Linked DNA regions of Homo sapiens: region 2 is linked to region 1. Evidence: fine-mapped expression QTL. Tissue or cell type: esophagus muscle. Region 1 holds a variant in brackets; the other region holds the start of a gene. All regions are shown on one strand. Distances are between the middles of the regions.

Region 1 (8,111 bases):
GATGACAGGATCAAATTCACATATAACAATGCTAACCTTAAATGTAAACAGGCTAAATGCCCCAATTAAAAGACACAGAAAGGCAGGGCGGGTAAAGAGCCAAGACCCCTCAGTATACTGTCTTCAAGAGACCCATCTCATGTGCAAAGACACACATAGGCTCAAAATAAAGGGATGGAGGAAAATTTACCAAGCAAATGGAAAGCAGAAAAAAGCAGGGGTTGCAATCCTACTTTCTGAAAAAACAAACAAACAAACATAAAAAATAAAAACAGACTTTAAACCAACAAAGATCAAAAAAGACAAAGAAGGGTATTACATAATGGCAAAGGGTTCAATTCAACAAGAAGAGCTAATTATCCTAAATATATATGCATCTAATACAGGAGCACCCAGATTCATAAAGCAAGTTCTTAGAGATCTACAGAGACTTATCTTCCACCACAGCAAGAGTGTGAGACTTTAACACCCCACTGTCAATATTAGACTGATCATTGAGACAGAAAATTAACAAAGATATTCAGGACCTGAACTCAGCTCTGGATCAAGTGGACCTGATAGATATCTATAGAACTCTTCACCCCAAATCAACAGAATATATATTCTTCTCATTGTCACATGGTATTTACTCTAAAATTGATCACGTAATTGGAAGTAAAACATTCTTCAGCAAATGTAAAAGAACTGAAATCCTAATAAACAGTGTCTCAGACCATAGCACAATTAAATTAGAACTCAAGATTAAGAAATTCACTCAAAACCACACAACCACATGGAAGTTGAACAACCTGCTACTGAATGACTCTTGGGTAAATAATGAAATTAAGGCAGAAATCAAAAAGTTCTTTGAAACTAATGAGAATAAAAGGACAATGTACCAGAATCTCTGAGACACAGCTAAAACAGTGTTAAGAGGGAATTTTATAGCACTAAATGCCCACGTCGAAAAGCTAGAAATATCTCAAGTTAACAACCTAACATCTCAACTAAAAGAACGAGAGAACCAAGAGAAAAAAACAAAACAAAACAAAACAAAACCCAAAGCTAGCAGAAGGCAAGACATAACCAAGATCAGAGCTGAACTGAAGGAGGTAGAGACAAAAAAAAAAAATCCAAAAACAAACAAACAAACAAACAAACAAGCCTTCAAAAAATCAATGAATCTGCAGCTGGTTTTGTGAAAAAAGTAAAATAGACTGCTAGATAGGCAAATAAAGAAGAAAAGAGAGAAGAATCAAACAAACACAATCAGAAATAATAAGGGAAATACCACCACTGACCCCACAGAAATACAAACAACCATCAGATAATACAATAAATACCTCTATGCACTTAAAACTAGAAAATCTAGAAGAAATGGAGAAACTCCTAGACACATACAACCTCCCAAGACTGAACCAGGAAGAAGTTGAATCACTGACGAGACCATTAACGAGTTCTGAAATCGAGGCAGCAATAAACAGCCTACAAATTAAAAAAAAAAAGTCTGGGACCAGACAGATTCACAGCTGAATTCTACCAGAAACACAAAGAAGAGCTGGTACCATTTCTTCTGAGACTACTCCAAACAATTGAAAAGGAGAGACTCCTCCCTAACTCATTCTATGAGGCCAGCATCATCCTGATACCAAAACCTGGCAGAAATAAAACAAAAAAAAGAAAACTTCAGGCCAACATCCCTATGAACATCTATGCAAAAATCCTAAATAAAATTCTGACAAACCAAAGCCATTATCCTCAGCAAACTAACGCAGGAACAGAAAACCAAACATGTTCTCACTTATAAGTAGGAGCTGAATGATGAGAACACGTGGACACACAGTGGTGGGAGAACACACACTGGGGCCTGTCGGGAGGGGGAGGGAGAACATCAGGAAGAATAGCTAAAGGATGCTGGGCTTAATACCTAGGTGATGGCATGATCTGTGCAGCAAAACCACCATGGCGCACGTTTACCTATGTAACAAACCTATACATTTGGCACATGTACCCGTGAAATTAAAACAAAAGTTGAAGAAAAAAACCTGAAAATTATTTTTAGAAACTTATAAAGAAGTGCTTACAAAGTTTTTGCATATATATGAGCAAGGATGTTAAGTGTACTATTGTTTGTCGTAAAAATATAAACTAAATTTTTATCTCTGGGATACTAATGAAATAAGTTTGGGGGCCTCTGTATAATGAAACACCTGGTTGATATTTTAAAAAGTTGTAAAATAATTTAAAATGTGATGATAGAAATGTATTTACATACAATAATTGTCATAATAAAGGCAAAATCAGGTTACAAAGTCCTAAGTGGCTTGGATCCATTTGTGCGTATACACGTCTATAGATATTTATCCACAGGTCTCAAAGAATATAAATTAAAATACTCTTTTTCTCTCACATAAAGCTTTCTCTTCAGCACCCTAATAGGTTGCAGTTTCTGTTGGAAGATGCTCAGTATCCTTATATACTTGGAATGACCTCCTTTTCACGAAGACTTCCAGAAAGCTCTGTAGGGTGGGCTTGGGTTACAACCCCTCCACCTTTCTGCTCAGCGATGTTTAAACTGCAGTTCAGGCTTCTGTCACAAGGCGACATCAACGTACCAGTATTATCAAACTTCTCTACAATGAAGTGTAAAAAAAGATAACCTCCCTTAAAACCCAGTTTATGAACTGAAGTACAGAGCAATTATAATTCTGTCAGAAAAAAACCCAGATAGGTGTAAATAAGACTGTAAAAGCATGTACTCTGGGACATCCATACCATGAAACACCAGGCAGCTTTAGTGCACCTTGGTAGTCTCCAACAGGCAAAGGGCAGTGCAGGGTAGCAGGAGGTGACTGGCAGAGGATGGGGGTGACAGAGTGGGGTCTGGGCGGCTGTGTCCCTTGTGTCCTGGAGAGGGGATCACTGAGAGGGGGCAGCAGAAGGTCTGGGAAGCCTGTACAAGGGTGGGATAATGGAGGGTGAGTGCCCTGTTCTCTGGGAGGGACCCTCCTAAAGTGTAGACATCTCAACCTACGCTGAGGAGGGAAGAGATAAATGAATGAATGTGATATAGATTTGGTGCCAACAGCAAAGGGAAAGGCTTTAATATACATGTTAATTTTCCAAAAAGAATTGCTATCTTAGTACACACACCATTACAAGATGATAAAGAGCAAACTGGAGAAGCATCGCGCCTGGTGACCAGAGCCAGGATTGAAGCTCTGGGAGTCAGATCAGGGGAGTCAGCAAGGAGTAGGGAGGGATGAAGGTTGGGATCTTGACTTAATGGTAATCAGCCAGCGTTTTCTGGAATTATTCTCCTAATGGTAGCCATCTCTCTGTATCTCTCATTTCTAGGGCTATCTAAAACTGAGATCGGTTCCAGCCTCTGTCTGAATTGAAGGTAAAATTGAAACTGTGAGTGTGTATTCGAGGTGATAGAGCTAGAGAAGACAGACAGACACACACACACACACACACACACACACTACACTGTCAATTCAGTTTTAAAACTCTACGTCTTTCACCAAAAATGGAATA[C/A]AATGAATGCTTTTTCAAATTAATGAATATATGTGCACATTACATTAGTCATTCTGTTCACAAGTATTTTTTGTTTTCAAATTTTTATCAAAATACTTTTTTTCCTGAACACCGATTTCAAACAATTTACAAACATATATTCATAAATCAAAATTAATCTGCACCTCTCACTGGCCCTACTTCTATCCCCTGACTCCCAAGGGGTCTGTTTCCATAGAATGGTGCATACTCTCCAGATGTGTCCCTGCAGGTGAGGTGCACATAAACACGTTCACCTACACACACAGTCTGCTCCAAAAGTGAAATCACAGTATTCAGCTTCTATTGCAACTATCCTTTTTCACTTAATATTGTTATTAGTGATAACTAATAATCTTATTAGTTCTTATGATTTTAGCATATTTAACATGTTTGCGTTTCACATATATATTTATTTGAATTATCTGTTGAAATTGGTTACTAACCATTTTGTTAGCAAGTGTTCTTCAGAAATCATGGATGTTAACGCTATATCTGATATGTAGTTAGTGAATGTTTTCTCCCCTGTTTCAGTATAATCACTAGTATTATTTTCATTTAGAATGTGTTCTAAAAGTTCAATAATATGATGAAAATATGTACAGGTAGTAATTTAAAAGAAAAATTCTTGAACACTTCATTAGAGCACATGTACTATCAGGGTTGAAGGAGATTAGAACATCCAGAGTTCTGGAGGCATTGGGACAAAATGTAAAACAAACAAAACCTCTAATTCCAGAATTGGCTACTGATCAGGAGATAACAAAATTGTCTCCCTGCTTTTACATAAGCTCTCCTTAGTTTCCTGATTTAAATAATCATCATGATATGTGTATTAATCTTTTCTCACATTGCTATAAAGAAATACCTGAGATGGGTAATTTATATTGAAAAGAGGTTTAATTGGCTCACGGTTCTGCATCATGATGCTGTCAATCTGCTCAGCTTTTGGGAAGGTCTCAGGAGAAACCTCAGGAAACTTACAATCATAGCAGAAGGCTAAGGGGAACCAGGTTTGTCTTACATGGCTGAAGCAGGAGGATGAGAAAGAGAAGGGGAAGGTGCCACACACCTTAAAACAACCAGATCCATGATAACTCACTATCGCCATGACAACAACAAGGAGGATGGTGTTAAACCATGAGAAACCACCCTCATGATCCAGTCACCTCCCACTAAGCCCCACCTCCAACACTGGAGGTTGCAATTGAACATGAGATTTGGGCTGGAACACAGATCCAAACCATATCAGTGGGTATCTTGAATAGCTGTTAGAATTAAAGGAGATGAAGTATAAAGTGCATTAGCTTACAGTGGTTCAGTGCATGTTACTTTCCTTCTCTCCTGGTCACCCATCCCAAGGCCAACACCTGAGCTTCTGCCTGAGCCCACTCATCAACTTCAGGTATCTGCCAACTCGTGTGGTCCTACACCTACATTTCTTGGCACAAAGGATGGGATCTCACCTCTATCATCTTCATTACCCAGAAGAGTTGTTGAGTAAATGCTTGTGGGGTCACAATAGCAGGGGGTGGACTCTGACCATTTCTCAAGCCCTGGAAGCCATCTTCTAAAAAGGAGGCTGCTCAGAGTCCTCTAGGAAGGGTGAGGGATGGAAACTCACCCCAATGCTGCCACTTACCTGGAAAGGTGACTTAGGCTCTGTGAGCCTGAACTTGGTTATCTGTGAAATGGGACTGACCATACCATCATTATGGAGCTGTCCCCAGGTGTAAATGAGAAAACCTGTCCAGAGATTATGGCATGGAGTAAAAGACGTCAGCGGCCCTTTAAATGCTGAGACACAGCATTAGGCGCTGGCTGAGCCTCAGGGCCAAGAAGGCATTGTGAAAAGTCATTTCTCATTGTTCCTTTTAATAAGAATACAGATATTTAGAGGAAGGAAGCAAATGTCTTTGATATGCCTTGAGTTCAAAGTTTTGGAGACAGAGATTTCTCTACATTTGGGGTGTTTTCAGAAGCTGATTTGGGTGTATTCAACATCATGAATCTGAGCAGACCCAAATCATTCTTCCCCATGATGGGAAGAATGTCTTTAAACTTACCTAGTGAGATCAATGGTAGATCGCACCAGGGAAACAAGAGGTCGGTCATGTTTGCCTAGTGGCTGCTCTTTGACTGCTCAGTATATTAATATATTTATAGGAAAATTCTGGGCCCATTTGCTGTCACCAGGGCAGGGGCCCTCAGCTCTTGCATTATCCAGCAATATCACACCAGGATTTCAGCCATCTCTGCCTCCTGGAGAGGCAAAAATTCAAGAGTTACTAGCATTTCCTTGACACACACTTGTCCATTTTTTCATTCACTAACTATATATTGATCTCTAAATCCATACTATTATGTTTGAGGCATCTAATGGGCTCTAAATTGTAAATAAGAGGATAAGAAAGGCAATGAATATATGGGCGACTTCAAAGGTTAAATTTGAGATGAGATGGTTCCTTCATATAATTTTTAAACTTGTTCAAGAAATTGAAGATTCAAAAAAGTTTATTCCTGACTCCTCATCCTCCCTTTAGCCACAGTATCAATATTCATTTTTTCTCTCTCTCTCTCTCGTGTCTTTCTACATTCCCTGATAGTATTCATCACTTCCCACTGACTATTTATACCACTACACTATGGCTTCTGTCCCCAGGATTGCAATAAACATCACCTTACCTATGTCATAATACACCTTTTCATCACTAGGTTCATTTTTATATATAAATATATTTAAATACAAAGTAGTAAGTACTGTATAATGACTTTCTAAAATGTATATGCTCTTATAGACTGCGTCTTTCACTTAACACAAATCTCTGAGTTTCCCAAGCTCTGTAGCATGATGTACTGGACACAAATCCAAGCTGTCCCACTCCCTAATTGTGCAGTCTTGGGCAAAGTTCTTATGTTCCAAGTGCTTTTTGGGTACTCGGTCTTTTAATGCTCACATGCGAAATAGTGCTGCTAATGTCCATTTTACAGATGAGATGAGAAACTGAGGAACAGGAAGAATAAGAATAATAAGAATACACTGGCCATTTTGATTTTTTCTCTATCTGTATTGGTCATTAGTATCTTTACTATGCCTATGGTATAAGCTCATGTTTATTCACAATCAATGACCTTCGAGGTATGTTGTTAGTAAAGTTTACCAATCATTTGACCTTAAGATAGGAAAATTATACTGGTTTATCTGTGTGGGCCCAATGTAATCATTAAAGGAAGAGTCTTTGAAAGCAGATGTAGAAGAGGGAGTCAGGGAGATTTGAAGTATGAGAAGAACTTGATGCGCTACTGCTGGTTTGAAGATGGAGGGGGCATTATGAGAAGAAAGGTGGACGGCTCCTAGCTGACAGCCAACAAGGAAATGGGGACCTCAGTCCTACAACTTTCAGGAACTGAAGTTGAGCTTGGGAGATGATCCCAAGTTCCAAATGAGAATGCAGCAAACTGACACCTTGATTTCAACCTTTTGAGACCATAAGCAGAGAGCCCAGAAGAGCTATACGATGCCCAGTCTTCTTACTCACAGAGACTATAATAAACGGGTGTTATTGAAACCACTAAGTTTGTGGTAATTTCTTATGGCAGCAATAGAACACGAACATACTTGGTAGTTTTTGGTCAGATGCCAGACATTGTGAGTTGTACTTTGTTGGGAGATGAGTATGTACTCCTATAAAGTTTTATTGTGAGAGCCAAGTAAGTTACTTGGAAATAATTGGATCCTTTCAAGGCTTTTTATCTTTTTTTTTTTAGGGTGAGTCCATAACACCTTTTATTTTAGGGCTATTTTAGCTTCATTACTAAGGTGACACCCTTCTTGGGACTCTAGGTGATGTCTTCTATGTTACAAGGTTTTCCACTCTGGCTGGAATGAACAAGAACAATTCCTAGCCCTGTTTGAGCTCTGGGAATTGTTCATCCTATTGCTTTCTAGTGGTTCTTTTCCTGATCTTAGATTTTTTTTTTTCACGTATGCTCAGATCAATTCTTAACAAAACACCCAAGGACCTCTTTGCAATACTGTGCAACTCTTTCTTTGCAGCTATCAACTCTCCAGAACTCTGCCCACAAATTCTAGCCACGTTGGTCTACCTGAACTTCAATGTTTCCTCAATTTAGACCAGTTAGTTGACGAAATTGTAGGACTTGCTTCATTTCCTTTCTCTAATAGATCTCACAGTCTTGCCATGACTGTTGTCTAACGTCTGAATGCTAACATACACTGTATTTTGTCCAGATTTCTGGATGAAAGGCTAGATCCAGTTTCTAGTCCTCTCTTATGGCTGGAAACAGAAGTTTCCGGGGAGCATTTTAAATATTAAAGCATGGATTCCATCCCAGAATGTTCTAGGGGGCAGACCTGGATATTGGGTATTTAAAAAGCTCTCTTAGTGATTCCAATGTGTAGCCAGGATTGAGAACTGTGGACCTGAATGATCTATAAAACACTTATAACAAAGGTTATAAGACTATAAGCCCAGCCAAAACCAGAATAATCTTTGCATGATTTCATTGACAAATAAAACTAACTTGAGATTGCTGGTTCAATAAAAACAGAA
Region 2 (8,095 bases), 860 kb after region 1:
TTGCCCAGTGGGTAGCGAGTGAGTCAGATCCCAAACTCCACTGTATCATAATTTTTCTTGGACAGCTCCTGTCACCACTTATGTTAGCTCTTATCCTCTTAGAAGTAACAACTCAAATGGGAATAGATGAGCAAGAGTTTAACTGGGGACAACACCTGTGAAGGATAAAGGAGAAGGAGTGGGAGAAGGTGGAGAGAGTGTTCAGATGGTAATGCAGATCTGACATTGGTGAAGGAGAGCAGGGAAAGGAGGAAGATTTGACAGGAAGAGCCCTAGACTGTCACATAATCCTAAGGTTTCAGCTAGGCTGAAGGGGAGCTGTGGAGCCAAAGACTTCAATTACAGAAGCCCTGTAACTTACAGAAATGCAACTGAATAGTGCTAGTTATTGGCAAGGATCAGCCCATGGGATTCATGACCTCAGCATGAATGTGCTAGTGGATTCAGAGGGTCAGCAACTAGAACCATCAATCAACAATACTTCCCACAGCAGGAGATCTAAGTGGTGCATTTTCATGGCGCCAGATTATCTTATAAATTTTTAACTGAGCTAAAAATTCCTGATGTATGGCTGCTCCACCATTTGTGATTACTTCAGTTTTTTCAGTTTATATTAATTAATGATATAATAATATGGACTCAATTGCACTAAATATTTTTAAATGACCATTTGGTCTTCAATTGATTTTCAAATGGTTCAGAAAAAAATAATAATGTATTCTTCAATATGAAGGGAGAATGAGAAAGCAAATATAGCAAAACTGAGAACTGGGAAATGCAGTGAAGGGCATGTGGGGTTTTTCTCAAAAACATTCTATAAGTTTGAAATTATTTCATAATAATTTTTTTAAAAAAAGATCACTTACATAATGATGGGAGATCTTTTTTCTTTGTTTCATTTTGTTTTTTAACTGTGACAGGGTTTCCCAACTCTATCTGATATTAAAAATTATGTCAAAGGAGCTTCTTAAATGCAGGTTTTCACACCTGACTCTAATCTATTAAACTAGGATCTTTAGAGAAAGAGCCTAAAAATCTTAACCCCAAGTGCTTCTTATGATGTGTTAAGTTTAGAAAACATTACCTGGTGACCTTGAGAAGTGTATTTAAATAAAAAATTAAACAAAAGAAAAAATAAAATACAATAATAGTTAAAAAAAATAAACCAGGTGATATGGTTTGGCTGTGTCCCCACCCAAATCTCATCTTGAATTGTAACTCCCACAATTCCCATGTGGAACCCAGTGGGAGGCGATTGAATTACGGGAGTGGGTCTCTTCTGCGCTGTTCTCATGATAGGGAATGAGAATCATGAGATATGATGGTTTTAAAAACGAGAGTTCTCTGCACAGGCTCTCTCTTTGCCTGCCACCATCCGTGTAAGACGTGACTTGCTTCTCCTTGCCTTTCATCTTCCACCATGATTGCAAGGCCTCCCCAGCCCCATGAAAGTAAGTCCAATAAATCTCTTTCTTTTGTAAATTGACCAGTTTCAGGTATGTCTTTATCAGCAGTGTGAAAACGATTAATACGCCAGGCAATATTAAGCATTGGCAGACATGAAAAAGCAGGAATTCTCATACATTATAGATACCAAATTTGGACATTTTTCAGGATTGACTTCTATGACACTGAAAAATATCCACACATATATAGAAACGACTGTTCTAGAAATTTCAAAATTTGATATTAGTATGAAAATTTTATGTACACAGAAGTTCAATCAACATCATCTATGATAATGAACACTACAAACAACCCAAACATCTATAAATATGAAAATGAATATGTGTGTACAATAGCAAAGACTTGGGACCAACCCAATGCCCATCAATGATAGACTGGATAAAGAAAATGTGGCACATATACACCATGGAATACTATGCAGCTATATAAAAGATGAGTTCATGTCCTTTGCAGGGACATGGATGAAGCTGGAAACCATCATTCTCAGCAAACTAACACAGGAACAGAAAAACAAACACCACATGTTCTCACTCATAAGTGGGAGTTGAACAATGAGAACATATGGGCACAGAGAGGGGAACATCACACACTGGGGCCTGTCTGGGGGTGGGGGGGCAAGGGAAGGGATAGCATTAGGAGAAATACCTAATGTAGATGATGAGTTGATGGGTGCGGCAAATCACTCCATGGCACATGTATACTTATGTAACAAACCTGCATATTCTGCGCATGTATCCCAGAACTTAAAGTATAATAATAATAATAATAATAATAATAATAATAATAATAATAAGAAGAAGAAGAAGAAGAAGAAGAAGAAGAAGAAGAAGAAGAAGAAGAAGAAAATGAATATGTGTGTATTATCTTTGTTTTTGAAGGGAGATATTTGGACTGATTTAGAGTAAAATGTGAATAGTATATTTCCTGTAGCGGGGATAAAACTGATATTATCCTTCTACCTTACCTGTGTTTTCTAATTTTGCTGAGGGCTTTTTCTGGTACCTTGGGAACTTGCTCAGCCCAGGTGTAGGACAACTTAAAAGTGCCAGAGATTTTAACATCCTCAGCGTGACATCCACCAATAGAGGGCCAAGTCTGTAGAAAAATACCCCAACTTCTCATCACTAGTTAGGATAATTCTGAGGAGCACTCTAAATCATTTCTGAGACTTGGAGGGTCCCCAGCAGATTTGAGCCAGTTGCCTTTTGGTCTTGTCAGGATCTGGTGCTGTATTTAAAACAACTTTTCCATTCTATTATATAAAAAATAACATGCTAAGTTCTATTTTTAATGGTTTAATGTCTTTTATGCAAACATTTAGTGTCTATTTTTAAGTGTATGAGAATGATAAGGCACTTCATTGTTTTTGAAAATAGTCAATTATCCCGATACAATTTCTTCAATCTAACCTTTCCCCACTGATTCAAAATATTTCAATGCATTTACTAGCATTTTTTCCATATTTGGGTTTGATAATTGAATTTCTTTTCTGGTTCATTTGTTCTAAATTTATTCTGGTACACTATTATCTTAACATTGTAATTTCACAATACTTTTTAAACTTTTATTTTAAGTTCAGGAATACATGTGCAGCTTTGTTATATAGGTAAACTGATCCTCTCCCTCCTCCCATCCTCCACCCTCCTGTAGGCCCCAGTGTTGTTCCCCTCTATGTGTCCATCACAATACATTTTCATCTGTCAGGGTAGCTTCCCCAAATTATTGTCCTGAATCATCAGGGCTAGGTGTTATTGTAAATTGTGGTTACACTAATACAATTTAGAGGAGATCATCAGTTTGTCACAGGTTCTCAAGACATGAAAATCCACCAGAGAGGCTCTATTAGACTCAATGCATCATTTCACGGAAGGACATGTAGAGATCCTTCACGAGAAAATCACTTCTTTCCTTCTTTCCTTCCTCTTTTCTTTTCTTTTCTTCTTCCTTTCTTTCTCTTTCTTTCTTTCTTTCCTTCTTTCTTTCTTTCCTTCTTTCTTTCTTGACAGAGTCTCACTCTATCGCCCAGGCTTGGTGTGCAATGGTGCTACCTCGGCTCACTACAACCTCTGCCGCCCAGGTTCAAGCAATTCTCCTGCCTCAGCCTCCCGAGTAGCTGGGATTACAGGCGCCTGCCACCACGCCCAGCTACTTTTTGTATTTTTAGTAGAGACGGGGTTTCACCATCTTGGCCAGGCTGGTCTTGAACTACTGACCCCGTGATCCACCCACCTCGGCCTCCCAAAGTGCTAGGATCACAGGCACGAGCCACCGCTCCCGGCCTTATTTCAAAGTCCTTAAAGGAGGCAGGGGAATGCTTTCTGGAAGGTTTATATTTATAATATGATTCAGCAGGAGAAACAGATTGCCATGTTTTTACAACTCGAATCCTGTTTTTTCAACTGAAAATAATTGTATTGTCTAGTTATAAAAACAACAACAAAATGAATGCATGCTGATGAAAAATAAAAGGAACCCCCTTCCCAAATAAACAAACAAAAAGGAAAGTAGTTGAAGTGAAAAAAAAATTTGAATACCACTTCCTGCCTATTTTCCAGACTTCCTAGCCTCTCGCTCCCCACCCCTTCTCCGGGTTCCAATCTGGGACCAAGCCCTACAAGACTGTTAGGGCTTTACTTGCTGGACGTGAAGGGGAGAGAAGTGTGCGTTTAGGTGTATAGAAGAGGAAGAAGCGATTTTTTAAAAGCTCCAGCAGAAACCAGAGCAAGCCAAATACAAAATATTATGACCCGTTTGGTCGTGGGGATCGCTAAATAAAAAAATAGAGGGGTGGATAGTAGCCTGTGGTAGTGGTGGAGAAAGCACGAATGAAGAGAAAGGTGGCCCCGCCCACAGTCCCGCCCCCACCCTCCTGCCGCACTGCGGGTGTGAATGGTAATTGGAAATCTGAGCTCACAGTGACGTGACCCTTAGGAGACCCAGAGCCAATGCGTGGATTAGTCCCTCCTCCTAGTTGCAGTCTGGTAGTTGTCGCTGGCCGTGTGACGGCTCGCTGTTGCCCTGAAGGCAGGCGAGCCAGCTGCCCAGGAAAGGTGGAAAGTGGTAGAAGCTGACCCCTGAGCCCTGGCAGGTAGGTGGCGCTGACCGGTGTGTGAGCAGCAGAGGGCAAAGACCAGAGCGGGTCTAGGACTGGATACACACCCTTTCCAGATACACACCCGTTTAGTGCGAGAAATGGAGCGGTTGGGGAGAGGATCTCCCGAGGGGGCTGGATTGAGAATGGGTACCATTTGAGATCTCCTAGGAGGCCGGCCATCGGGCAATGTCTGATGGAGTCCAGCCGGTGGAGGAGACTGAAAGGAAACAGCCTGCTTCCTGCAGGTCCGCGGGAGGGAGGTACAGCCGGCAACCAAGGGTTGGGGAGGGCGGACCCTGCCAAGGTTTTAGGCCTGCCTTCTAGGTATCTTTTCTTCACCCTCTACCCATTTAGAGCTGGAAATGATAGGCTGCGGGGGCCGAGGAGAGGAATTGCTGCAGAGGAGGGGGACAGAGATTAGGTCTGGAAAGCAGGTCCCTATTGCGGCAGTTGAGCGGGCGAGCTTCTGACTGAGGGACAGAGGCGAGGAGCGAGAAACTGTTTTTGGTCTCAGCAGGTCGGTCGGTGTAAGCGTGGGCGCTACCTGTAGATCCTGGAGTGAGAATGACAAAGCGCAGAGACCGCAGCAGGTCCTAGTTTTCAATGCCCACATACCTCTTCACTCATCGTCCATCTTGATGCATAAAATGGTGGGCATGGGAGTGGGGATCGGGTGGAGAGAGGGCCTGATGGATATCTAGATTGAAATTCTTTGTGAATAAACTACGTATTCATTCAGCAAGCTCTTCTAACTCCCCCGCCAGGCAAGTTGCCTGCGTTGCAGAAAGGGTAACTAGATGACAGGTAAGAGGAAACAGTAGAGATGGGCGCCTAAAGAAGAGGTTAAAACGTTTTGGAAATAATCATCTTTGATGCCTATTTCTGGAAGGTGGGATAGCCTGTCACAGGGTGGGAAAAGAAGCCGTGAGACAGGATGGAGGAGAAACAGAAGGTGCTAATACTAGGAGAACCCTAAATCAACTCCCATTACCGGTCCTTTGATTAAAAGATCAGTCCTGGTAATTGTCACATTTGTCTGCAGGTCTTTAAGTGCGTTTGTGCAGCCGATTTCAAGGCTAAGAGAGAAAGACTGCCTCTGATCCCTGAAGGTAGGAGGTTGCCTGGGGCCCTCTGGTGTAGGGGTATCAAGGATCAGAGCAGAATCTGGGTGACTCACAGCCCTTCCTGCCCGAGTTGAGTGCAGGAGAAACTTAGGAGAGTCTTCATAAAATGACAGCCTGTATCTGATGAGGGAAGAAGGGAGTAGAGGGGCGAGATCTGGGGCGCTCCTGGAGAGCTTATTAGGATCCCAGGGAGGTGAAGTCTGGTCTCTCTATGATCGTCCCCCTCCGCTAAGTCGTCTTGCATTTTGGCGGTAGGAGTGGCCTGGGGAAGGGATTTTCAGGGAAAATGATGGGCTTTGGGGCAGCGCTGGGTCTGGGGCGCCCCCTACAGGGTTCATAAAGTTTCTCAGGTGGGAAAACCTTTGCCAAACAGAGCTCTGAATCCTATCAAGCATTCATTCCCTCTTCTTGCTTTTTATCTTCTAGGAAGAAAAAAAAAAAAAAAACAGGAAAAAAACTCAACATGGAAAATGTCCCCAAGGAAAACAAAGTTGTGGAGAAGGCCCCAGTGCAGAATGAAGCCCCCGCTTTAGGAGGTGGTGAATACCAGGAGCCTGGAGGAAATGTTAAAGGGGTTTGGGCTCCACCTGCCCCGGGTTTTGGAGAGGATGTGCCCAATAGGCTTGTCGATAACATTGATATGATAGATGGAGATGGAGATGATATGGAACGGTTCATGGAGGAGATGAGAGAGCTAAGGAGGAAAATTAGGGAACTTCAGTTGAGGTACAGTCTGCGCATTCTTATAGGGGACCCTCCTCACCATGATCATCATGATGAGTTTTGCCTTATGCCTTGAATCTTGAGGTTAATAATCATAAAATCCCTGCTTTCTAAATTCGCATTTTTCCTGGTGTACCTTTAATGTGAACCTTTTGGCATTCTTCTGCAATTTTCTGATTGGAGATTGCATTTTGACCTAGTCTGTAAGTTTTTCTGTCAGAAGAGGACTTTCATCAACTTTCATGGAAAGATGTTTATTGCATACTGTAAAGTTAATAAAGCAATTTAAAAGCAGTCTACAGATAGACTATTTCATTTAGATGTGTACGTATGCACACTATATATAATATATATGAAATATATATATATATATATATATATATATATATATATATATATGAATGAATGAAAACCAGAATGTGCTTTTTCTATGTTGTATAGTTACTGGTACTTTTAAATTTCTTTATTTTTTTCTTGGTTATCCACTTTTTCTCACTTTTCCAAAATGAATACATGTGTTTCCTATGTTTCAGGGAAAAAAAAAGTAAGAAGCAAGGAACTTGCCAATCAACTTATATAGGAAATGGGGGCAATTAATAAACACTTGAAACACAGTTTAAAGACATATAAATCTTATATTACCTATGGATCTCTCATTTAGAAACATGTACCTGATAATTACAGGTACGTTACATTATAAATGCCTTAGACGGCTGCTGTGGGAATCAAATGAGGTGATGACTGAGCTCTGTGTCTTGCTCTATTTATACATGCAAGGCTCCAGCCCTCTAAGTGCCCTTCATATTTAGGGAAGATTCCAAGGAGAGTGCCTATCAGCAAGTCCAGTTGATTTCCAGGTGAGTACGGGTTCAAAATCCATTATCCGAAATGCTTGGGACTAGCATTTCAGATTTCAGATTTCTGGGGTTTTTTTTCTGTTTTTGAAGCATTTGCATGTACATAAAGAGCTGTCTTGAGGATGAAACCCAACTCTAAACATGAAATTTATTTAATTTTATATACACCTCAAACACATAGCCTGAAGGTAATTTTATACAATATTTTTAATAATTTTGTGTGTGAAACAAAGTTTGCGTATATGAAGTCAGGTGTGGAATTTTCCATTTGTAGCATCATGTCATGTTCAAAAAGCCTTGGATTTTGGAGCACTTCGATTTTGGATTTTTGGATTAGGGATGCTCAACTGTAAATGCTTTTCTATTCATCTGCTACTCTGGCTTTCTTTCCTGCATAATACCATAACTATTAGGCACATCTTCCTCTTCTCTTGCGTTTTGCTCCCTCCACTGGCTTCTACCACTGCAGATGTACTGGACTTCTAAAGATGACAAAGACCCACCGATTTCTCTGGAACCTTCAGTAATCCGAATCCCCATTTTGCCTTTTCAAAAATGTATAGAGTGTCCCTCCCTGCTTTAGAGTTATAATTAAACCAGGCAGATACTTCACCAACACTGCTTATAAATGCAAGCAGCCCTTTATGGTTTTCTCCCACTTCCTTCCTCATCCCCTTCTCCCAGACAAATTTGAGTGACACTCATGATAGTGTGCTCAGAATTGGACTATCTCTTCCATCCTCTGATGAATATAGCTTAGTCTCCTTGACTATCAATTTTCTGTGCAGACATTGCTACAGGTTTCATTCTGCACATACACAGGAGTTGTA

What was found. PIP is the estimated chance that this variant, and not a neighbour inherited with it, causes the effect.
Region 2: BEX5 starts here. The variant in region 1 is fine-mapped to the expression of BEX5 in esophagus muscle (GTEx, PIP 0.98).

What each region holds. Positions count from the first base shown.
Region 1 is chrX:103,012,208-103,020,318 of GRCh38, reverse strand. No RefSeq gene overlaps it. Among named protein-coding and RNA genes, the nearest start is that of BEX1, 48 kb to the left of the region's middle. The variant C/A (reference allele first, on the strand shown) is at 3,520.
Region 2 is chrX:102,152,319-102,160,413 of GRCh38, reverse strand. BEX5 (brain expressed X-linked 5) reads left to right here and starts at 4,437. Exons shown (of 3, transcript NM_001012978.3): 1 at 4,437-4,555; 2 at 5,604-5,670; 3 at 6,112-6,702. The coding sequence starts at 6,149. The coding sequence ends at 6,484. RefSeq lists an enhancer at 4,481-4,620.